Regions from separate parts of the Homo sapiens genome. Here regions 2 and 3 are each linked to region 1. Evidence: fine-mapped expression QTL. Tissue or cell type: whole blood. Region 1 holds a variant in brackets; each other region holds the start of a gene. Each region is shown on its reference strand, or each on the opposite one.

Region 1 (8,176 bases):
ACACTCACACACACACACACACACACACACAAACACACACACAAATAAAAAAGATAAAACCCAACATTTTAAATCCTTCAGACCCGCATTTCACTGGTAAGTAGAAAGTCAAGGGACACAGGGCTTGGTTTTCATGGTTTTCTCTTATTTGGGTGGAGCAAATTTCCTGATCATTCCTGTGACGTGGGAGGCAAATATTTGGACACCTTGAATGTCTGACATCATCTCCATTGTACCCTCACACTTAGTTGATAATGGGTTTGGTACAGCATTCAGGGTTGGAAATCATTTTCCCCTGGATTTTTGCTGCATTGTAGTCTAGCATCCAGGATTTGTCTTGAGAATCAAAATTATTCTGATTCATGATCCTTTGTAGAAGACCTATTTGTATCTCCCTGTCAGCTTGTAAGATTGTCTTTTGTCCTCAGTGTTTGTAAATGTTATGCGGGTGGCTTAGGCTGGGTATCTTTTCATCTGTCATATGGGCGGGTGCTCATTGGGTCCTTCGGGCTAGAAATTAATGTCTTTCAGTTCTCTGAAATTTCCTAAACTATGTCATGATGCTTTCCTTTCCCACCTTTTCCTTGGTTTCTCTCTCTCTCTCTGGAACTCTGTCTTCATATGTTGAACCCCTTGAACTAATTTTACATTTTTTTGCTCTATTTTCTCTATTTCCTCTGTTTTGTCTTCTAATTTTTCGAATGAACTTTACATTTATAACACGGCATTTTAAGCTTACAACTATTCTTTCTGTTCTCTAAATATTCTTTAAAAAACAAACAAACAAACAAACAAACAAACGTGTTTGTGCCTGGATGCCATCTCTGATTGTCTATCTGAGGATACTGATAATAGCTTCCTGTTTTATACTCTCTCTTCTCTATGCATAATCTCTGTTTCCTCCAAGTTACCTTCTTCTCTTTGTTTTGGTCACGCTCTCTCATGTCAGGGGCTTTCTTCAGCTGAGACCCTCAGTCACTGGTTTATATTTAAGAGTGGGGCATGAAAAGTTGATTGGAAGCACTAAATGTGTGATTAAGATTGTTGATTGTGGACTTCCTTGTAAAAGAATCTGGTTGGACTATTTTCCTGGGGAACTACCAATATCGGCATCTTTAGATTTTTCCTCTTGCACTGGCTTGAGCTCAAAAAAGCCCTTTAATCCTCTCTTGGAAGTGACAACCTAGACGTTCTGAAGGCCGAGAGAGAGAAGAGGGCTGGAGCAGGGCTATCGCAGGTCAATATTCCATATACAAACCTTCCCTTAATCTGCTACTTCTGTGTGGTGCCTTGACCTTCAGCTGTGCCTGGGATCTCCCCAACTAGAGACCTGGTCTCCTCTCCAGAGAATAAGCCTTCAGTTTTTTGCTGGTGTCGGAAAGGGGATTTGTGCACCTCACTACTTTGTGAGCAGGTTCCTTCTCATTTTCAGAAGTTGTGGACACCCCCAAATCCTGAGCCCTCTTTGGGTTCCGCTGGTAAACCTGGCTGCTTCTTGGCAGGAATGCCCTTAGACCTGGGCCACGGCCTCAGAGAGTGTATGTTCCCTCTTCTAGCTGTGCCCCTTCTCAGGGGCCAAGAGGACATGCCCACTCAGAGTGCGCACCTCATTCCTCCTTCTAGAACATTCTCCAGGGAAAGGAGGCCTTGGAATTCCCTGTCCAAAGGATCCCAACCCTGCTCCCTGGGCCCCGGGGCGGGGGGGCTCTTTCCAGAGCCCTCCTTCCAGAGTGGACCATGCTGCCAGTGTGAGCCACCTAGGCTGAGGAGTGGCTGGGGGCAAGGGGTTGTGGGAGGTTTGGATGGAGCCATGCAAGCTCCCTCAGGTGCAGGATGGAGCTGGGCTGGGAAGGAAGGGGAATGGGCCACGATCAGGGATCTTCCCATGTTGCTGTGTTTTGGTGCCGAACTGAGAAGTCCAAGGAGGACTATCCATTTGAACCTGCAGTTAAGGGTTGAATTGTGTCCCCTCAAAAAGATCCATTGCAGTCCTAACCTCCAGTTTCTCAGGACATGACCTTATTTGGAAATAGGTTCATTGGAGGTATAATTAGTTAAGATAAAGTCATACTGGAGTCGGGTGGGTCCTAGTCTAAGATGATGGGTATCCTTATAGGACAGCCATAGGAAGATGGAGGCAGAAATGTATCTCCAGGCCAGGGAGCGCCAGCGAGTGCCGGTCATCATCAGACACTAAGAGACAGTCCAGGAACAGATTCCTCCCAGCCTTCTGAAGGAACCAGCCCTGCAGACGCCTTCATCTTGGACTTCTAGTTTCCAGAAGTGAGAGAATAAACGTCTGTGGTCCTAAGCCGCCCAGTGTGTGTACTTTGTCATGGCACCCTAGGAAACTAACACATGGGCCTTTTACATCACCAAGAAGGTATATTTGTCAAAGCAGAGAATAGAAGGATTTTTTTTTTAACCTTTAAATAAAGTCTATGACCTTAGTGTAGAATTTTCTCTTTATGAGTGAGGGCACGTGAGCTTCCTCCGCTGCCCCTGCTCAGGCCTCCTTGAGTGCGAAGGGTGAGTTGGCTTCTTGGCTCCCCCCAATCCTGGTGTAGGGCTCAGCTGTATCCTGCGTGCTCAGCCAGCCCCCACGCACTCTTCCCTTCCCAGCCTCCGGCATTTTACCAGTGTGTTCTCCCGAGATTTTGCTCCTGGAGGTTCCGTCCCAGTGCTGTTCAATAGGATTTTCTGTGATGCTGATGGAAACATTCTTTTTCTATGCTGTTCAGTATATCAGCCACTAACCCTGTGAGGCTGCTGAGTGCTTGAGATGTGGCTAGTGTGATCTGGAAGCTGAAGTTTAGAATTGATTTAATAAAAAGGTAAATGTAGCCCGTGTAGCTAGGGGCTACCACATTCCATAGCACAAAGCTACACTGTAAAATAAAACAAAACAAAATGTTTGTCTTTGATGGATTTAGAGAGAGAATGGAAGTAAAGGAACGTGTTTCATCTGCCATCTTTACCCTAGTATCTCTTGTGTGTCTTAATTTTTATTTCAAAGAGATTTTAGAACTAAACTAGCAGTGGTGAGTTTAAAAAAAAGTCCCGGCTCTCAGATGCATAGTAGGGTGAACGCTGGTGCTTGGTTCTGTGTGCAAGGAGGCAGCTTTCGTGGCCATCCCTCTTGTCACAGGTAAGGGCAGGCAGAGGCTCTGTTCGTGGTCACAGAATGAACCTGGGGTCTTTGGCTCCTGCCAGGTAGGTTTGCAGCCTCCAGGGACCTCGCCAGGCACCCTTCATGACTCCTAAACACCAAGCGGGTGTCCAGGCCCTGCGGCCACCCGGCTGCTGGAAAACAGATTGGGTTGGTAAAAATATGTGTGTGTGTTCTCACAGAACCTGAGAAAATCACACCTCCACTTTGACAAAAAAATCTGTTTGTGCAGCTCCAATAATCACTTCCTAACTGGTGGGATAGCAGGCCATATGTCTGTGAAGTGGCTAGCTGACGAGACATTCTACCTCCGTTGCGCCTCGCAAAATACCTTTTTCTAGCAGATCAGCTCTAAAATAAAAAGAAATGAAGCCACAGGCTTCTGCTTCCAAATGATGCTTCTGAGGCAAGGCAAGACAAGGCAAGTGGTTCCTGGAGACACAGGAGTGGGGGCTTGGAAACGGGCCTGGTGGGGCTTGCGACTCCGATGTGTTTGGGGTGAGGGAAGCCAAGTAGGATTTTCAAGTTCAGGGGCTGGTCCCGTGTTGGGGGAGAGGTCCCTACTGAATGGCGAAGGAGCTGTCTGCAGAAAGTCGGACTTGTTTGGGGGTTTGAATTTTGGAGGAGACCGCCCCCCGGCCGCCCCTCCTGGCATTCCAGCTCTTGCAAGGTGTCTAAACACCTTGCGCTCATCTCGCACCAGTTGTGAAATTCCATCAGGCTTGAATAATCATAGGAAGCCGCTCTGGCATCCTCATGACCTAAGGCAAGCACATCTCCATGTCTGTGTGTGTAGGGGCTTCCCTTTGGACTCCCCTCCGGGCCCGCCAACCTTTTTTGAGTGTGTGGCTCACAAATTTCACCTTGGAGGTGACCACCGTCCCTCGGAAGCTCATGTACACACAGAAAAATGGCAGTCCCTGGAAGGAGCTTTTCTTCTCCCTGCATCCTTTCCCCAGAGTCAGCTGGAAAGATCTAGAACGACAGACACCCTTCCCCGCCATGCTGTTTCTGGAACAAGCTTGTCTTTCCACTATTCACTTTGCTGCCTTAGGTAGAACCACATGTCATGTGTCTTGCTTTTCTCATCTGTGACTCCAAAGGGTAGTGTCAGAAAAGATCAAGTTAAGAAATGCAAAATCATTTTAATAAAGTTATTGACTTTTGTGCCCATTTCAGTATCATATTTAAAAATTCACATTATGGAAATAAATCTGGGTTTTCAGTTTGCTCTGTGCAGTACGCAAGATGCCTCATTCCCTTCCCTTTTTTAAGCGTTTGACATTATTTTATGGCCTGAATTCAATGACTATTCAGAAGATCTGAGAAGCAAACTTTACCTGTTGGATTTTTCGTTATCCAACAGGGAGGACTTGATAAAGGAGGATGGTCTGTATTTGTCAGAGCAGGTGCTGTGGTTGTAGCCAGTCTTGCCGACTGCCATGAGCTGTTAACACTTGCTCATTTTTAAAGTCCTGCTCAAGTTCCGTCTGTGCCCCAATCCCAGGAGGTGTCTATGGAGCCCTGTGACTTTGCTCTTGTTCATGCATCAGATTTCTGATGCTGCTGGTGATCGGAGGAACAGGATGCTCATCTAGCGCGAGCTCACTGACCACGGTGGGAGCAGGAGCTGGAGCTGATGGGATGGAGAAGGGAGCCCCGGCGAGAAGAAGGAGAGACAATTTACTCCAGAACCCGGCAGAGACACTGGCATGCAAAGGTTAGGCCTGGGTCCCCAGGCCCTGCGTCAGTGTTTCTTTCTTGATCTCTTCCAGCAGGAGGGA[G/A]TCTCCCTGTGAACTCCCTCACACATTATCTGCTCCTCTCCCTGGCACTTACCAGTTATCTGTCTGCTGCAGATGAGTTATTTCTGAACTTGCCTTATCTTGCTCCTGGACTGCTTTAGCTCCTGAAGGGTTGCGACTGTCATAAACACTTTGTTATCTTCTTCGGTGCCCAGCCAAGGGCCTTGCACCAGGGCCACGTGCAGAGGGCACAAACCTCTGGTCCCTGGGCCATGGGGCTGAATGGTTTCTGACACCAGCAGGCTGGCACACTGGAGAGGCTGCGGCAGCCCTAGTTGGCTGCCATCTTAGGGAATTGGAAGCCTCTGGGGTGGGGTCGGGGGAACGTTGCTCTGGGAAGGTCTTGGCAGTTGGAGGTTTTCTTCTCCATCTCTCACCATGCCCTTTGCTCCTTGGGGTTAGATGTCTCTGCACCAAGTGCCACCTCTCTCTGCTATATCTTCTCCAACCTCCCCTCTGCTGCGCTTTTCTGCCATCTCTCTCTGTTTGGCATGAGCATCTCTCAACTCAGCATCTCCCTTACCTCCCTCCTTCCCTTCTGGGCTGGGCTTCTCCCGGGGACACCCACTGCACCTTTTATGTCTCAGACCATGGTATTGGTGCCCGCCCTCCATCCCCTGACCCGGCTTGGCTCTGTATGCCCCTCCAGGGCCTACTGTGTGCCACATCCAGGGCGTGCATTTGGTCTGCATCAGACTTGCCTGTTGATCAGCATCTTGGCATTGATCACCCTCTCCTCATTCTTCCCCTTCCCGAATAGCAGACTCTTTCTGGCTCCTTCACCGGCTCCTTCTCCTTTTCTTTTCCTTGTGCATTAGTGTCCTTTGCCCTGCACACTCCAAGGCACTCCCAGACACTCTCTTTCCTTCCACAAGACATCAGCGACCACCTGGAGGCCAACAAACCCAAGTCCACAGCTCTAGCCTTTTCCCTGATGCTGCTTCATGCACGTATTGCAGGGGGTTCCTGCTTGTTGCCTAAGCTCATCAAACACACTTGTCTAAGATAGAAGTACTGACTTAGCACCCAGCATCTCCTGCCACAGTTAATGGTGCCACCATTCACCTGGTCATCCAGGAAGTCACCCCTAGACTCCTTTCTCTCCCCCAGTCCTGCTCATTCTCCAAGTGCCCCAAGTCCTCCTGGCGTAGTCAGGTGGGCTAGGTCATGCTGCTGTAACAAATATCCCTGCAATCTCAGTGGCTGAACACAGTGTCTGGATGGCCGGGCTGGTCTTCTGGCAACTCACCTCTAGGTCACCACTCTGGGATCTCGTCTAATTCGAGCTGTAGCTCTGCCATCTGGAACCAGTACTTCTGAATTTGCTGCAGAAAGTAAGAGCAGATGAGAGGGTCCTGCAAGATGTTAAGGGCCAAGCCTGAAATGGGTTACATCGTTTCTGCCCCATTCTATTAGTCAGAACTCAGTCCTGCGGCCCCTCAGCTCACTGCAAAGGAGGCTGGGAAATGCACTCCGGGAGACGGTCTCCTCCCCGCGTGCTCAGGGAGGGGAAGGGATGTGGTGCCTCTGCAGTACTGCCGTTAGGGCCCTGATCATCTCCTGTTGGACTTACGAGTCTCCTTGCTTACAGCCTCTGTCCTTCCAATCTAGCTTCCTCCCAGCAGCAGGAGCAGCCAGTCATTCTAAGCTGCGGATCTGACCACACCACCTCCTGCTAAACCCCTTGCTCTTGGGATAAAGTTGTGGCTGGACCCTCTCAACCTCTCCAGTCACATTTCTTACCACCCTCCCCAACACAGCCTTCTCCCCAGCTACAACAAACTCCCCACATTTCCCCAAACAGGCAGTATTTCACAAGGCTCCCCTTGTCCCCTCTTTGCCAACAGGGGTTGTCCCTTCCAGAACAGGCTCGGATCTGTGTTCCGGAGTCAGCTCCCCAGGCCCCCCTAGGGTTCATCTGTGCCCACCCACTGTAGGCCAAGTCTCGGGCTCCCCATGCGGGGTTTCCAAAGCCCTTCATGTGCCCTCATTAGGATACTCTTGGCATTGTTAGTTATTGCTTTTCAGAGGGTCTGACTTCACCCACAAGCCAGAAGGGTAAAGCCTTACTGTGCGGCCTCCATTGTGCCGAGAGCACCACATGCTTTACTCACTGGAGCCTTAACATCACCCTGTGAGAGGCACTGCTAGGGCTTCCATGTAACATCATGGGGAACCAAGGCACAGAGATGTCAAGGAACTTGCCCAAGCTCACACAGCCAAGTGGTGGAGGCAGGTTGGCTCCAAGTCCACATGTGTGACTACTGTGCTACAGGGCCTATGACCCACAGCCCTCAGCCACATGGCACCTTCATCTCCGTCTCTGCAACCCAGAATGCTGGTCCAGAGTGCATGGACACTCACAGGCAGTTGAACACACATGAGCAAGTTCCATTTTAAAGCTTTCTTTTACTCTGTCCTCTGCCTACTTCCATCCATGCTTCCATTAGAAATTCCCCCTATGGGCCGGGCACGGTGGCTCACGCCTGTAATCCCAACACTTTGGGAGGCTGAGGTAGGTGGATCACCTGAGGTCAAGAGTTGGAGACCAGCCTGGCCAACATGGCGAAACCCCATCTCTACTAAAAATACAAAAAAATTAGCTGGGGGTGGTGGTGCACACCTGTAATCCCAGCTACCTGGGAGGCTGAGGCAGGAGAATTGCTTGAACCAAGGAGGCAGAGGTTGCAGTGAGCTGAAATTGCGCCACTGCACTCTAGCCTGGGTGACAAGAGCAAAACTTTGTCTCAAAAAACAAACAAAAAATCCTCCCTATGGTTTCCTTCTCAGTTCAGTTCAGGAAGCAAGAAAATAAATCCATGAGACTCTCATTAGATTTTTTCAAACAAAGTAACTTGATCTTATCCCTGGAAGGGAGCACCATGCCTCGGACACAGTTACTCCAGAGATCTCATCCCTGCCTCAACTATTCTGAATGGCTTCTTTGGGAGGTGGTTGCAGAGACAGCTTACTGATCACACAGGAAAATGATTGCCATGACCTTCTATCACTATCTGCGCAATACAAACAACATCAAAGGGACTCTCCCATACTGTGTCTACTCATGAAAAGGGCTTTGCCAGCATCTCTTTAAGTAAGTGTGCAGAAATGATGTCCTTCAAAATCCCTGTTCCCCACGTGGTTGCCGTGACATGGAGACGCAGAGGGGGACAGTGTTGCTGCTCAGGGCTGCCCTGACAAAGGG
Region 2 (8,176 bases), not on the chromosome of region 1:
ATACGCTGACTTTCCACCAATGTCTGAGAGCCCCTCAGTCCCCTCAGGCAATAGAACTGTAGGGTATTTTGTGCACACCAAACTCAACTACAAACCTGAAATGGCAACACATCATACTCAAAGCAAATTTCAAAGGCTAAGCATTCTGAAGTGGACTTGAGGACAATCTGCCATGTGGCTTAACCATTCCAGTAGCCTTCTCTTTTTATGTAGCTAATCAAGAACTAATCACTATATCCGGGGATTAAGATGAAAATACCAGGAAAAGGCTGGGAGTGGTGGCTCACACCTGTAATCCCAGCACTTTGGCAGGTCGAGGTGGGCGGAACGCTTGAGCCCAAGAGTTTGAGACCAGCCTGGGCAACATGGCAAAACCCTGTCTCTACGAAATACAAAAAAATTAGCTGGGCGTGGTGGTCCATGATTGTAGTCCCAGCTACTCAGGAGGCTGAGATGGGAGGATTGCTTGAACCTGGAGAGGTCGAGGCTGCATAAGCCATGATCACACCACTGCACTCCAGCCTGGGTGACAGAATGAGACTCTGTCTCAAAAAACAAAACAAAACAAAACAAAAAGAGGCCGGGTGCAGTGGCTCACACCTGTAATCCCAGAACTTTGGGAGACCAAGGTGGGTGGGTCACTTGAAGTCAGGAGTTTGAGACCAGCCTGGCCAACGTGGTGAAACCCATTTCTACTAAAAATACAAAAATTAGCCAGACATGGTGGTAAGCACCTGTAATCCCAGCTACTCGGGAGTCTAAGGCAAGAAAATCGCTTGAACCTGGGAGGCAGAGGTTGCAGTGAACTGAGATCATGCCACTGCACTCCAGCCTGGGTGATGGAGTGAGACGCTGTCTCAAAAAAAAAAAAAAAAAAAAAGAAAGAAAGAAAAAAGAAAGAAAGGGAAAAGAAAAATGAAAAACAAGAAAGAAAAAAAAAAAAGAAAATGCTAGGAAAATGAAACTGATTTTGACCCTAAAGTGGGGTTGAGGGCAATATCCCCACTCCCAGTGTCCTCTTTTCTGTGTGAGATGATTACCATAGTCTGTGGTGTACTGTCCTTCCTGAGGCATCTAACTGTACCCACCCCCCTTTTTCTTTTTTGAGACAGAGTCTCACACTGTCACCCAGGCTGGAGTGCAGTGGCACGATCTCTGCTCACTGCAATCTCCGAGTCCCGGGTTGAAGCAATTCTCCTGCTTCAGCCTCCCGAGTACCTGGGACTACGGGTGCCCGCCACCACACCTGGCTAATTTTTTTTTTTTGAGATGGCGTTTTGCTCTTGTTGCCAAAGCTGGAGTGCAATGGCACGATCTCGGCTCACTGCAACCTCCGCCTCCCGGGTTCAAGCAATTCTCCTGCCTCAGCCTCCGGAGTAGCTGGGATTACAGGCACTCGCCACCACGTCCGGTTGATTTTTTGTATTTTTAGTAGAAACAGGGTTTCACCATGTTAGCCAGGCTGGTCTCAAACACCTGACCTCAGGTGATCCACCTGCCTTGGCCTCCCAAAGTGCTGGGATTACAGGCATGAGCCACCTGACCTGGTCTTTTTTTTTTTTTTTTTTGAGACAGAGTTTCACTCTTGTTGCCCAGGCTAGAGTGCAATGGCATGATCTTGGCTCACTGCAACCCTCTGTCTCCTGGTACCCACCCCTTTCTAAGACCTTCCTACTTTTCTAAGAAGAGGAAGTAGCTACTGTCTTTCTGGAAAGTGACTGCTTCTCATCCAAGGCTACCCTTCCCTCAGGGTGTTCTTTTTTCTCTGCTGGTGGGTACTTCAGGATGGGACATGATCCAGCAGGAGGAGAATAAGTGGGGACAGGGCTACCGAACTCAATTGTTCACTTATCTGGTCATCATTTCTGGTTTTAGGGTGTGGTTGGTGACTGAAAGGGACAAACGACTCTGGGGAGCTGTTGAGAAGCTTGATCTTACAGGAAGTCTCAAAACTACAGGGTTATCCTATCACTCCATCTAGAAGAAGAAGTGGGCAATTTGGAGCAGAAGAAGTGGGCAATTTGGAGCAAAAGAAATGGTCATAAAAACATGTTTTTAGGGCACTGTATCTCATACCTGTAATCCTAGCACTTTGTGAGGCCAAAGCGGGAGTATTACTTGAGCTCAAGTGTTCAATACCAGCCAGGGCAACATAGCAAAACACCTATCTCTACAAAAAAAAAAAAAAAAAAGAAGAAAAGAAAAAATTAGCCAGGCGTGGTGGCATAAGCCTGTAGCTCCAGCTACTTGGAACACTAAGGTGGGAGGATCACTTGAGCTCAGGAGTTTGAAGCTGTATTGAGCTGTGATTGTGCCACCACATTCCAGCTTGGGAGACAGAACGAGATCCTGTCTCTGAAAAAACAAACAAACAAAAAAAAAACAACAGTTTCCTTATGCAGATGTCAGATGTGTAGTTTTGTGGTTAGCACCTCAGCATTGGAGTCTGAGCCCGGCTTTGAATCCTTCCTCTGCCACTTGCTAGTTTAGCGACCTTGGGCATGTTGCTCAACTTCTGTATATTTCCTAATCTATAAAATTGAGTATGCACTGGGTGGGGTGGTTCACGCCTGTAATCCCAGCACTTTGGGAGGCTGAGGTGGGGGGGGATCACCTGAGGTGGGGAGTTCGAGATCAACCTGACCAACATGGAGAAACCCCGTCTCTACTAAAAATACAAAATTAGCCGAGCATGGTGGTGCATGCCTGGGATCCCAGCTACTCGGGAGGCTGAGGCAGGAGAATCGCTTGAACCTGGGAGGTGGAGGTTGGGGTGAGCCGAGATTGCGCCACTGCACTCCAGCCTGGGCAAGAAGAGCAAAACTCCATCTTAACAACAACAAAAATCCAGTCTGCTTAGCAGTGTGCCTGAGGCTGAGGCAGGAGAATCACTTGAATCCAGGAGGTGGAGGTTGCAGTGAGCCAAGATCGCACCATTGCACTCCAGCCTGGAGACAGAGCAAGACTACGTCTCCAAAACAACAACAACAACAACAACAACAACAACAAAAACCATCACCCAATCCCCTTAGGGTGGGATGATGCAATTTATACTAGGGTTACTATAATAATGTTGCTGGTTGGTGCAGCAGCTCACCTCAGTAATCCCAGCACTTTGGGGGGCCGAGGCAGGTGTATCACTTGAGGTCAGGAGTTCGACACCAGCCTGGCCAACATGGTGAAACCCTGTCTCTACTAAGAATACAAAAATTAGCCAGGCGTGGTGGGACATGCCTGTAATCCCAACTACTCCCTAGGCTGAGGCAGGAAAATCGCTTGAACCTGGGGAGGCGGAAGTTGCAGTGAGCTGAGATCTTGCCACTGCACTCCAGCCTGGGCAACATAGCAAAACTTTGTCTCAAAATTGATAATAATAATCATATGTTGCTTACTGGCCACCTTTTATAAGCAACGGTGTGCTGGGGACATTGAGGCTTCTGCATGCAACCTCCCATCCAATCTGCCAGCAAATGATGGGAAGGTAAGGCTGCTCTGTGGAAGGAGGCCGGTTAATCATGAAACATTTAAGTAAAAGTGGAGGAAAAGGTCACTGTTAACGCAGAGAATGGAGATTGCAAGTGGGAACTGGTAGAAAATGGCCAACCACAGGGCTTATCTGTGACAGCAGTGTGTCCATCAAAAATCAGTGAATAATAGAAACAACAGGGTCCTCCAGGCATCATCAAGACCTCAGTGTTATCTGCAATCAAAAGGTGAGGGCAGGGGGCAGGCGCAGTGGCTCACGCCTGTAATCCCAGCACTTTGGGAGGCCGAAGCGGGTGGATCACGAGGTCAGGAGTTCGAGACCAGCCTGGCCAACACAGTGAAACCCCCATCTCTACTAAAAAGACAAAATAATTAGCCGGGCATGGTGGCACGCGCCTGTAGTCCCAGCTACTTGGGAGGTGGAGGCAGGAGAATCACTTGAACCCGGGAGGCGGAGGTTGCGGCGAGCCGAGATCGTGCCATTGCACTCCAGCCTAGGCAACAAGAGCGAAACTCCGTCACAAAAAAAAAAAAAAAAAAAAAAAAAAAAAGTGACGGGTGATGGGGTGATGGATAGGTTGAGAGCTCGACTCACGTTGCTGAAGCTCTGCGCGGCTTTAGAAAATTCCCCGCACAGGTAGAGCCGCTCGCCTTCGGCCATATAAGAGGGAAAGGTGCTTCGCAAGGTCTCGCCTTCGGGGTCCGACATGGTGACCGGATTTAGAGACGCTAAAGCAGAGACAATCAAAGAAAAGCTGGAGAACCTCTATCTGGTTTGTGGAAGCTCCGTTTCTTAGCAACCATGAGATGTACAGCGACTTCCGGTTCCGCCCCCGTCTGGCAAGGGCCCGGATTCTGGGTACAACCTGCCGGCGTGCGCTTGCGCCAGTTCTGCCGCGCACTGGGCCAGGGAGTGATGATTGCGTGGCTGACGGCTGGGCTGGTTAGTGTTTGCTGTTGCACGCTCTGGCGGTTCTCTCTGGAGTTGCTGCCTGAAAAGGCTCCCTTGTAAGACAGCCAAGAAAACAGGAAGAGGGTTGGAGGCAAAGTTCCGAATAGGGATGAGGCATACGTGGTAAGGATATGTGCACGGCGTACCGCCATTAGGGGGAGAGAGCACTGGGCTTGGAGTCAGCAGACTTGGGCTGACTTCGCTCCTGTCACTTCCTAACTGCGTGACCTCTCGCGGGGCATGTAAGGGCTCCCAGCCTCGAATGTTCCACCTGCCAAATAAATATGAAAATAATGGAACACTCAGGGATGCGAGGATTTGCATAAGAAAACATGGAAAATAACGTTGGGTTCAACATAATTTAACGCAGTTATTTGAGCAGCTACTAGTAGCGGGCCTTGACCAAGGCATATTCTGACGTCCTTCCCCATTCCCTCACCATCACCACTCCTCCAAAAGTGGACTAGGTGCTTCTTCTGGGCTCCAACGATACCCTAAGTAGCTTGCTTAACTGCCTTTACTACGTTACTTCCAAAACGTCCTAATGTCATTGTTAAAGTTTAAATAGTAAAAAGATGTCTTTAACTACAAATGCACACACACACACACACACACGGCATACATGTAAAACTGGGGATATTTGAGTAAGATCAGTGGATTGTATCAGTGTCAATTTTCTGGTTGTGTTATTGTACTAAAGTTTTTAAGGATGTTACCATTGGGAGAAACTGGGAAAAGGGTACATGGGATCTCTTTTGTATTTATTTCTTATGAACTGCATATGAATCTATGATTATCTCAAAAGGTTTAATTCAAAATATAAGAAATAATATGGTCCCTGCTTGAAGGAGTTTTATCTAATAGGGGAGAAAGATGTATAAACAAGTAACGGCCACTTAAGTGATATTAACTAGTAATTAAAAGTTCTGTGTGCCTGTGAGGGAGATGAGGACAAAGTGGTGTGAAACCCAGGCAAATGAATGATTCAGCCAGGGTCTGGGATGGGTTAGAGACATGTTCATAGAGGGGTAATATTTGAGCTGAGGGTGAGTATGGTGGAGCCCAGTAGACGTAAGTAGAGAATGAGAGCTAGGTGTGGTGGCTCATGCCTGTAATCCCAGTACTTTGGAGACTGAGGTGGGAGGATCGCTTGAGCTCAGGAGTTCGAGACCAGTCTGGGCAACATGGCGAAGCCCTGTCTCTACCACAAATACAAAAGTGAGCTGGGTGTGGTGGCGTGTGCCTGTAGTCCCAGCTACTCAGGAAGCTGAGGCAGGAGGATCACTTGAGCGTGGGAGGTCGAGGCTGCAGTGAGCCATGTTTGGGCCACTGCATTGTAGCCTGTGTAACAAAGCAAGACCCTGTCTCAAAAAAAAAAAAAAAAAAGGAAATAACATGTGCAAAGGCTGGAGGTGTGTACATTCACAGGGTGTTTAAGGAGCAGCAACAGGTTTAAGGACCTGCAGTGAAACTGGTCCTGTTCTAAGTTAAGGTGGGCTCATTGATGAGTTGAGGACTGTTGCTGGAGCAACCAGGATTAATCAGAAAAAAACCTCCTGCAAGGAAGAGATCTACAGATTCAGTGCAGTTCCAATCAGAACTCCAGCAGCTTTTTTTTTTTTTTTTTTATGGTGGAGTCTCACTCTGTCACTCAGGCTGGAGTGCAGTGATGTGATCTCGGCTCACTGCAATCTCCGCCTCCCGGTTTCAAGCTAGTCTCCTGCCTTAGCCTCCTGAGTAGCTGGGATTACAGGTGCACACCACCATGCCCAGCTAATTTTTTGTATTTTTAGTAGAGATGAGGTTTCACCATGTTGGCCAGGCTGGTCTTGAACTCCTGACCTCAGGTGATCTGCCCGCCTCAGCCTCTCAAAGTGCTGGGATTACAGGCATGAGCCACTGTGCCTGGCCCCAGCAGCCTTTTTTTTTTTTCAGTAATTAACAAGCTGATTTTAAGATTTATGTGGAAATGCAAAAGACCTAAAATAGCCAAAACCATTTTGAAAAAGAAGAACAAAAGAGAACTTAAATTCTGTGATTTCAAGACTTATTTTAAAGCTACGGTAATGGTATTAGCATAAATATGTAAATATATATGGATTAATGGAACAGAAATAGATCCACACATATATGATCAATTGATGTTCAATGAAGTTGCCAAAGAGATTCAATGGAGAAAGGATACTCTTTTCCACAAATGTGTGCTGAAGCAATTGGATAGCCATATGGAAAGACAAAATCCAAAATAAAAAACCTTGATCCTTACCTCACACTATATACAAAAATCAACTGGAAATATTTTAATGTAAATATGTATTTAATTAATTTTTATTTTTATTTTTTGAGAGAGAGTTGGCCTTGTCCACCAGGCTGGAGTGCAGTAGTGAGATCTTGACTCACTGCAACCTCTGCTTTCTGGGCTCAGGCCACCCTCCCACCTCAGCCTCCTGAGTAGCTGGGACTACAGACACGCACCACCACACCCAGCTGATTTTTGTGTTGTTTTGGTAGAGACAGGGTTTTGCCATGTTGCCCAGGCTGGTTTTGAACTCCTGAACTCAAGCAATCCTCCCACCGCGGCCTCTCAAAGTGCCAGGCTTACAGATGTGAGCCACCATGCCTGTCTAAATATAAATATTGAGTTTTTTTTTTTTTGAGATGGAGTCTCACTCTGTCACCCAGGCTGGAGTGCAGTGGCGTGATCTCAGCTCACTGCCACCTCTGCCTCCCAGGTTCAAGTGATTCTTCTGCCTCCGCCTCCCAAGTAGCAGGGACTACAGGTGTGCACCACCATGCCCGGCTAATTTTCATATTTTTGGTAGAGACAGGGTTTCACTGTGTTAGCCAGGCTAATCTCGAACTTCTGACCTCAGGTAATCCACCCACCTTAGCCTCCCAAAGTGCTGTGATTACAGGCATGAGCCACTGCGCCTAGTCTAAACCTTGATCCTTACCTCATACCATATACAAAAATTAACTAGAAATATTTAAATGTGGCCGGGTGTGGTAGCTCACACCTGTAATCCCAGCACTTTGGGAGGCCCAGGCGGGCAGATCAAGACCATCCTGGCTAACACGGTTGAGCTATGATCAGGCCACTGCACTCCAGCCTGAGCAACATAGTGACATCACATCTCAAATAAAATACAATTCTAGAAAATGCAGACTAACTGCCTGGGAACATGGCAGTAGGGAAGTGAGGGGTAGATTACAAAGGAGTACAGGGAAACTCATGGAGGTGAGGAATATGTTCATTATCTTGATTGTGGTAATTGTTTCACAGGTATATACATGTATTAAAACTCATCAAATTGGCCAGACATGGTGGCTCAAGCCTGTAATCCTAGTACTTTGGGAGGCTGAGGTGGGTGGATCACCTGAGTTCGGGAGTTCAAGACCAGCCTGACCAACATGGAGAAACCCTGTCTCTACTAAAAATACAAAATTAGCTGGGCGTGATGGCACATGCCTGGAATCCCAGTTACTCGGGAGGCTGAGGCAGGAGAATCACGTGAACCTGGGAGGCGGAGGTTGTGATGAGCCAAGATCGTGCCATTGCACTCCAGCCTGGGCAACAACAGTGAAACTCCATCTCAAAAAAAAGACCAAAAACCTCATCAAATTGTACACTTTATGTGCAGTTTATTGTACATTAATTATATATTAAGAAAGCTGTTTTAAAAACACAATAAGGCCTGGCGTGGTGGCTTATGCCTATAATCCCAGCACTTTGGGAGG
Region 3 (8,176 bases), not on the chromosome of region 1:
TTATCCAGCCCTGCCATCCCTGCTGGGGAGCTACCAGCAGATGGAGCCCCGCCCGCGGTCTGGGGTCACTCCTTGTGATGCTGCCAGAGCTCTTTATGATGCCATAATTTGTAGTGACATCATTGCTGTGTCCCTCCTTTGAGTCTGAGAGGGTTACTCAGATAAGAGTTGGGGAAGTGGAGTCAGACAGGAGCCCTACTGAGGCTCCAAGTCAGTGGGCCGGGTTGGGCTGGACTGGAGGAGAGAGTGGTGCCAGAGGATCCTCCCCAGGGCAGATGGCTATTTTTGGTGTCGACTGCTCGGCTTATAGCCACCCCTCTTCCTGTCTTCCCAATCCAAAGAGGCTCTGGGTCCAGCAGGGGCAGGAGCAGTAGGAGAAATCTTTAGCCCTGCAGCAGGGCAGCTCTGGGGTCAGTCTCTAGCTCAGGAACCAGCCTGTTCCTCCCTACAGTGAGGCCTGACCCTCAGTACCTCGGGTCTGAGGGGAAGGGGGGCCTTACTTCCAATCCTTGAAATAGCAGTGAGGCAAAGAGAGATTATTAGGATGGCCAGACAGACGGACACAGCCAGACCCACCATAATAGTCACACACATTAACTTGCTGATGTGGGCTGCAGGCACAGCCTCACGCCAACACCATCACACTCACAGCCATTCATTCTCATAGCCATGCCCACAGCTACACGTGGGCCACAGATGGCTGAACCACACGGACATACCAGCACAGGCACAATGTCACCTGTCCCATCTGGGAGAACAGGAACCCCTTCTCTCTCACGGTTGTACTCCCAGAGAGGAGCTCAATTCCCAGCACATGGCAGATGCGCACTAATATTTGGTGAGTGAATAAATGGACATTCAGTGCCACAGGGCCTGTGACCAGGCTGGGCTGAGGCCAGAGGGAACGCCATCCCACCTGCAAGCCTGCTCGACCTCTCCAGACCCAGGATGGGAGCATCGAGGAAGAACTACAACTGCCAGCACCACCCCAGCCCCAACTTCAGTCATGGCCACTCCTCAGATAATAGGTCACTGAAGGGACCTCGGTTATGTAGGGACCCTGGTTATGCAGGGACCCCACTCCCTCCCTCCAGGTGCAGTGAATTGGAACACTGGCACTCTGAAAATGGAATGTTATGAACATTGGGTGCTCTGGATGTTGGGTACCCCAGGCCCCCTGGAATTTGGCACTGGGGGCTCTGGGTTTTGGGTCCTCTACAGTGTTGGGTGCTCTGGCACCCTTGACATTGGGAATTCAGGACTTTGGGAGCTCAAAGCGATTGAGGAGTCTGGGTGTTGAAAGCTCTGGAGATTGGGGCTGCCCCTTGGACAACGCCAAAGTCAATACTTCCTGTCTATATGCCTGATTTTACCTGGAGCCACTGAGGTCCAGCCCGGAACCCCTGTTCTGAACCCCATGATTGGCTTATGCTGCCCCAAGGCTGGGGTGGCAGGGCTGGGGTGGCGGGGTTTCAGGGGTAGAGAAACCACAACAGGATGGCCTAAGGGGTACCTGGAGCCCCAGAGACAGCTCTCAGGTCTGAAACCAATCTAACCTGCTCCTCTGCATTGGGACAGGGCAGTGGAGGTGCCAGGCACTGACCACTGGGCTCCAGGTTCAAGAAAGGAAGAATCTGAGAGCAGAGCCCAGGCAGGCACCTCCCAGTAATGCTTCCTGGCTACTGAGGCTGGGGTTCTAAGGAGGTGGAGACCCCTGGCCAGGCCTGGCTTCAACTACAGGCAATGTCCACCCTCCCCCACCTTCTCAGCAGGCCCCCAGCACCACTCCATCAAGGTGCCCAGTGCTGCCAGCTCCTGCAGTGACCACCAGAAGTGGCCCAAGTCTGGCATTATTCATATTCCTACTAGACACACACCTAAGCTGACTATGTGCATCTCGAAACAGAGGCCTTGATCCTGCAGGCTGATGACACCACTCGAGGAAACCAGCCAGCCCTGGGGGCTCTGACGCTGGATGCAGCCCTCCCAGGAAATAGCTCCACTGGCTGCAGTAACTGGAGGCTCCTGAGCCACATTTCAGCCTGCAGTGGGTGGTGGGTGGGCCCCAGCCCAACTGCTGCCCTGCCCCAGGAAGAAGCAGGCCCGTCAAAATGTCTGACCCCGTCCGTCCCCCATCCCCTCCCCTGCCCCAGTCTGTCCTCAGTCCTGATCCCCCTGCCCGCCCCACAGTGGCCCAGGCTGGCCATGCCCTTCCCACCCTGCAGGCCAGCTGCTCAGAGCCAGGGGCTCACAGCCAGGGACGGAGGCTATCCCAGCTCCCACCCGGGCTGGGCCCAAACCTGCCTCCTTTGGGCCTCATTCTGATTGGAAAAAAACAGCCTCTCTAGTCCCTGTCTCAGGAAGATGACTTTTCAAACCAGAATCTTTCTCACAAGTGTCTCCTCAGGACACAGCTGTGTGGTTTCCTGAAGCTCTTTCTGGTTCAAGGTGGGTAAAACACACATATCCATGAATCTGTTTCTATGTATACAAATAGACTTTGAGCTATGCCAGTGTTAGTCTAATAAAGCCCTCTGGCCAACATCCCCAATCTCCCTAAACACTCCAAGGAAAATTTTCTCTTCACCCCACGTCCCTGTCCCTAGGTTAGTCCCCAAGCCTTCCTCTTTCTGACGGAGCCTCAGAGGGCTGGCCCCTGAGCACCCATCCTCCTCTCTTCTAACAGCCCAGGCCCCAAGCCCCTAGGCCTGAGGGCATCCTGGAAGTCTGGCTTGCAGCACCCTACACCTGCCTCCCTTCATATGGATTCCCTGAGCCATGAAAACTCTCGGAATCTTCACTGAGTGTTCTTAGCGCTCAGTGCCCTCTTCTAGGCCTGTCCCCACCCCAGCCTACTGCTGGAAGGGAGAAGGAGGGAGGCCTTTTCCCCTTCATACTCTTCCTTGTCCGCCTTCCTCTACTTGGGGGCCTCTTCGACATCCTCCATCTGCCTTCCCTGGGGTGGTATCCCTTTTGATGAGCCCCAGCGAGGAGGCAAGGAGGAAGATCCTAAAAAAAACTTATGGAGGAAGTTACGTCCTGGCAGGAGAGATATAGAGGGCTTGGACCCCATCTGCCCAGTCCCAGGAATTGAGCACACACATAACTACACAGACCTGCTGCAGTGCACACAATCAGTCTTCCACAGATGTACCTACACAAATACACAATCGGGGCTCAGGTGTCTGGGGGCACAGACACAACAGGTTGCCTAGATCCAGGTGTGTGTGCACACAACTCACGCAAGAAACACCTGCACTTGGCTTGTAGGAGACTAAAAATCCCAAACATGCTATACCTACTAGGTTTGGGGACAAAGTAAAAGTGAAAATAATCTCGCTGATAAGACTAAGGTGTCTTCCCAGATCTGATCAGGAGTCCAATGTGAATAGGAGACAACAGAGAGCTGTCTTTGTACTTTGGCTCTGAGGAAGGTTTGTGGAATGGACCGCGTGTGGCCTGAGAGAGCTCGCATTTCAGGGAATGCCTGGGCTTGATGCCTGTTATCTTGTTCAGTGCCTCTGATAAATTAATAAACTGGAATCTCACTCAACAATTGGTTTCACGTGAGTTTGGCATGTGTGCACTCGCTTCTTGGAGGCTGACTGTCCCAAGGAAAAAAATTAAACTGTTTCCTGGCCAGAAAATGGTGAGGACTCAGGGTCCAAAGTAGAAATTGCCTCTGTGGGCTGGGCCCCTTCCCTGAGCAGATGCCCTACTCAGGTTGGGGCAAAAACCAGTTCCTCTGACAGAACTAACTGGCCACTCTCCATGAAAGGTGGTGGCTCTCACAAGGTATGCAAATGTGGGAGGCTCATTCCAAATGCCAGCCACCACTCCCCAGAGGCAGCCTGGAGCAATGGGCTTTATATACACACACATGCATTTCCTTAGCCCCTTCTCTCTGTTTCACAGAGGAGGAAACCGAGGCTCACCATGCTCCTTTTGGCAAAGACTCTTTTTTAGCTGAGATTGTAACCCAGGTCTGTCTCACCATGGAAGGAGGAGGGATCCCAGGTTGGTGTCTGCAGCCCCTGTAACACCACCTCAAAAGTAGAGCTGACCAAGCCGGTGGTCCAGGAGGGAAATTTGAGAAAGGGCTACCCCGAGCCCTCCAGTTCCAAGGAGTAGGACCTAGGCCTTACCCAGCAATGCCCACAGTCTCTAGCGGCTCTGCTCCAAAGGGAATGGAATTTGCTCTGACTTCTCTCTAGGGGAAACGCAGGCGCAGAAGGCCAGGGGCCTGGAGGGCTAACTCCAGCCTCAGCCCCCCATAGTGCCCCAGGCCTTCTGGCTTCATTCCAGCCTAGCCCGAAGGGGCCCACATCTGCTTGCTCAAGGGCCCCAGCTGGAGGGCAGCGAGGCAGGGGCGGAGAAGGGGACTCCTTTGTGGCGCTCACTCCCAGGGGTTCGTGGGGATCAATCATCTGAAAGCTGGAGAGACTTGTAATTTTATTCCCTGGGAGGAGGAGCCTGAGAAGTCGGCACGGGAGGAGGGGATGGGATGGAGAGGGGAGGACGGCCAGGGGAGCCGTTCGGGTAGGGGAGGGACTTGGCTAGATCTCCCAAGCCTTCTCCACTCTTCAAACTTTCACCAAACTCTTAGCCCCCGCCTCCCCGAAACCAAAACACAACAGGCTGTGGAAGAGCTGCGAGCGGCGCGGCGGGGCGGGCGAACTCGGCGCGGCACAGAGCCTCGGGAGGCTGATGCAACTTTCCCTTTAAGAAAGCCACCTGGGCGCACCGCGGTGCGGACCCAGCACGCCTGGGCCGGGGGCTGCAGCATGGTAAGGGGGCTGGGGGAAGGGACGCTGGGGCCCGCGCCTCCGTCTGTCCTGCCGTCGGTCTGAGTGTTCGGCGGCTCCGCGGGGCTGAGCCCCAGGACCAGCGTGTGCGTGTGTGTGTGTGTGTGTGTGTGTGTGTGTGATCGCGCATGTATGCGGGCATCTGTGGGTAAGAGTGTGGGTGCACGCACCGGGATGTCTGTCTCGCCGCAAAGATCGGGGTAGGTGCGCGCGTCTGGGTGTCACCGCTGTCACCAAGGAGCTGAAGCGGGAGGGAGAGGGAAGTGGGGGGAGCTCCTGCGTGGGGTGGCGGGGGGGCGCCAGACGCCGGTTCGATCGGGGGCGGCGGGCGCAGGCTGTGCGGGTAGCGCCGGAGCCAGAGCGTGGCACTGTCCGTCCGAGGAGCCAGTGGTTCTGCGCTCTGGGGGCCTGCAGGGGTCGACAGTCGGCCGTGCCTGCACCCAGCGTGCGGGCTCCCGCTCGCTCCATCGCCTCTCAGCGCCCGCCAGCCTGGCTGCCTATCTGGCCCCTCCAGCCGGCCTGCCTCCCTATCTGCCCTCCCGGTGCCGGTTCCAGTGCCCGTGCGCCCGCGGGACCCGGGAAGCCGCGCGGGAGAGTCCTGGCGCACTCAGCCTCTCTTTGTCCGCGCTCTGGCCGCGGCTTTGGGAAGGGACTGCGAGCGAGCCGGGAGTTCTCTGGGGGTTGCTACCCTGGGAAGAATCCGTGCCCTCCCCACCCCAACCCTCATTACCGGCACACCTAGGGCGGGGCCGGGCGGCCGCAGGTGAGGGCAGGGGCCTAGCAGCCCTGGAGAGCCCACCCCCGGCCGGCGCTCCGCACCCGGCAGCCACTGCAGATCTCGAGCAGGCGGCGGGGCCGGGCCGGGCGGGAGAGTGGGGCTTGCCCGGAGGGCCGGGAGGGGCCGGTGCCGGCCCGGGGGCGGGGCCGTGGGGCGGGGACCTCGGCGCCCCGGTACTTTTCCACCGCAGGGGCCGGGGGCGGGGCCGCCGCCTCCACGCCAGCTTAGGCCCACACGTGGCGGCTGATGTAACGCCCGTGCCCCCACATCTCTCTCCCCGATTAAAGCGGACGCGCCCCACTTCGAGGAACCGGGACGCTGCGGGCGGTGCCGCTGCTCCCAGACCGACCGCGCCCCTGCCCGCCGGCCGGAGGCCTCCGCGCCTCGGGCCGGCGGATACTTAAAGGAGCCGCACCCCCTTTCGGGCCTGCTCTCCGCAAGCCACACCCCCTCGCGGATCACTCTTAAAGGAGACGGGACGCTTGCTCGCTGACAGCTTCCGCACAAAGCGCGGTCTATTTCTCCGCTGAAAGGAGCGTGAGGGTGCGGCCGTTGGGAAATAAAGGCTGCAGGGCGAGGAGTGGGGAAAGAGAAAAACCTGAAAGGTTAAAGACTGCCAAAGTGAGGGAGCATCAGAAGGTTGGAGAGTAGTGGGTGAGGGGACTGGTTCTAGGGACTAATGGGCGACACTGAGCATGCCCAAGTGTTTCCAAGGACCGCAGAGAAAACGCCCCCTTTACTTGGCCTATGCGGCGACTGCGGCTGTACCTGCTCAGTTCCCGGCTCTGGGGACACAGAAGAATCACGCCTCTGCCCTGGTAGAACTCTCCATCTAGTGGGGAGCCAGACTTGGGCACAAGGAAGCATGCCTCAATTGCTACGTGTGGCAAGCGTGGGGGTACAGTAGGAAGGCTGACAGCAACGGGGAGGACCTAGGAAGGCTTCATGAAGATAATAGCATTGGGATAGGTTTTGAGGATGGGTAGGATACATACAGGTGGAAGTGGAGACAAGGGTGCTCAAAAAACATGGAACGGGTGCCGGGGCAAAGGCATGAAGCAGGAGCCCTCTGCAAGTGCTGGGTAGTCTCACGTGGCGGCAGATGGCCGCAGGCTGCTGACCTGGGCTCCCAGGTAGAACTAAGGGCTGTTTCCTGCTCCCACAGCTCCTCCACTTCCTCCAACACAGTGAATGGAAATTATGCTTCTTCCTCTGTCTACTAAACTGTGCGGTCCTTCAAGCTAGGAAAAGAGCCTGTCACCTTTCCATCCCCCGTGAGGACTCCAGGGCTTGGCCAAGATGGACCGTTAAAACTGATTGACCTGACAGTCCTGTCTGATACTCAGCGGTGAGACTGTCAAGGTGGGCCAGGGTTCTGTGGCTGATGTCTCAACATCTGGCTCACAAGCAGCTCAGACCAGCTTGTCCAAGCCAGCCCTCCTGTCCCCGCACCAAACCTGCAGCCTCACCAGCATTCGTCCTCTGGGTCGGGCACCGGTTTCCTCCCACTGCACCAGCAGAAACCAGAGACTCCTTCTTATCCCTCCCCCTACCCAGTCCGATTCATCACCAAGTCTCGCCATGTTGCCTTTTATATTTCTCTGAAATCTGTGCACCTCTCCTCACCCTATTGTCACCTTCCTAACCTGAGCCCCTTCATTTTTGGCCTGGCTCCTTCCTTCCTTCCTTCCTTCTTTCCTTCCTTCCTTTCTTTCTTTCTCTCTCTCTCTTTCTTTTTTCTTTTTCTTTTTCTTTTGACGGAGTTTTGCTCTTGTTGCCCAGGCAATAGTGCAATGGCACAATCTTGACTCACTGCAACCTCTGTCTCCCAAGTTCAAGCAATTCTCATGACTCAGCCTCCTGAGCAGCTGGGATTACAGGTGCCTGCCACCACGCCCAGCTAATTTCGTATTTTTAGTAGAGACAGGGTTTCTCCATGTCGGTCAGGCTGGTCTCGGACTCCTGACCTCAGGTGATCCACCCACCTCGGCCTCCCAAAGTGCTGGGATTACAGGTGTGAGCCACCGCGCCCAGCCTGGCCTGGCCCATTTCTAATTGACTTCCTCTCTTCAACTTCAGCCTCCCTCCAGTCCTTTCTCCACACTGTATCTAGGGGGATGGTTTCAAGATGCACATTCCACCAATGGCTCCTCCTTGAAGTTGATCTTCTGCTTAAAAGCTTTCAATAGGCACCCTTGCCCTCAAGATGAAGACCAAAATCCAGACCCCAAAGGCCCTGGCCAGGCCTCTCTGTCCACTTTAATCTTTGACCATTTCCCCCTGACTGTCTGAGCTCCAGCCTCAGAGCCTTTCCACATATTGTTCCATTTGCTTGACTCTCTCTTCCTCTTCTCTTCCTCATTATTGCCACTTTGCCTAATTAACTTCTTTAGACCCTTAAACATCACTTCATCAGGGAAGCCCTCCCCTAGTCTTACACAAGGCCAGGCCCCCCTATTGTAGAGTCTCATAACACAATCTTTGTCTTTTACACCCTTTATCTCAGTAGGCAGTTCTTTATTTTTTATTTTTTGAGATAAGAGTTTCACTCTTTTTGCCCAGGCTGGGGTGCAATGGCGTGACCTCGGCTCAC

What was found.
Region 2: ODAD4 starts here. The variant in region 1 is fine-mapped to the expression of ODAD4 in whole blood (TOPMed, PIP above 0.99).
Region 3: it holds the start of SLC6A9, and the variant in region 1 is fine-mapped to the expression of SLC6A9 in whole blood (TOPMed, PIP above 0.99).

Annotation. Positions count from the first base shown.
Region 1 is chr2:8,612,831-8,621,006 of GRCh38, reverse strand. All of the region lies in intron 1 of LOC105373411 (a long non-coding RNA gene), which reads left to right. Among named protein-coding and RNA genes, the nearest start is that of LINC01814, 33 kb to the right of the region's middle. The variant G/A (reference allele first, on the strand shown) is at 4,954.
Region 2 is chr17:41,926,743-41,934,918 of GRCh38, reverse strand. ODAD4 (outer dynein arm docking complex subunit 4) reads right to left here and starts at 4,302. Exons shown (of 12, transcript NM_031421.5): 1 at 4,082-4,302. The coding sequence starts at 4,195. It also overlaps a transcript of ACLY not described here. RefSeq lists enhancers at 4,194-4,293, 4,474-4,563, 4,276-5,179.
Region 3 is chr1:44,027,917-44,036,092 of GRCh38, reverse strand. SLC6A9 (solute carrier family 6 member 9) reads left to right here and starts at 4,631. Exons shown (of 14, transcript NM_001024845.3): 1 at 4,631-4,787. LOC107984948 (a long non-coding RNA gene) reads right to left here and starts at 5,679. Exons shown (of 2, transcript XR_007066054.1): 1 at 5,544-5,679. LOC124904168 (a long non-coding RNA gene) reads left to right here and starts at 319. Exons shown (of 4, transcript XR_007066055.1): 1 at 319-410; 2 at 668-838; 3 at 1,773-2,448; 4 at 3,366-3,550. RefSeq lists enhancers at 1-44, 1-1,382, 4,901-5,497, 6,139-6,696, 6,697-7,256 and silencers at 5,090-5,159, 5,480-6,029.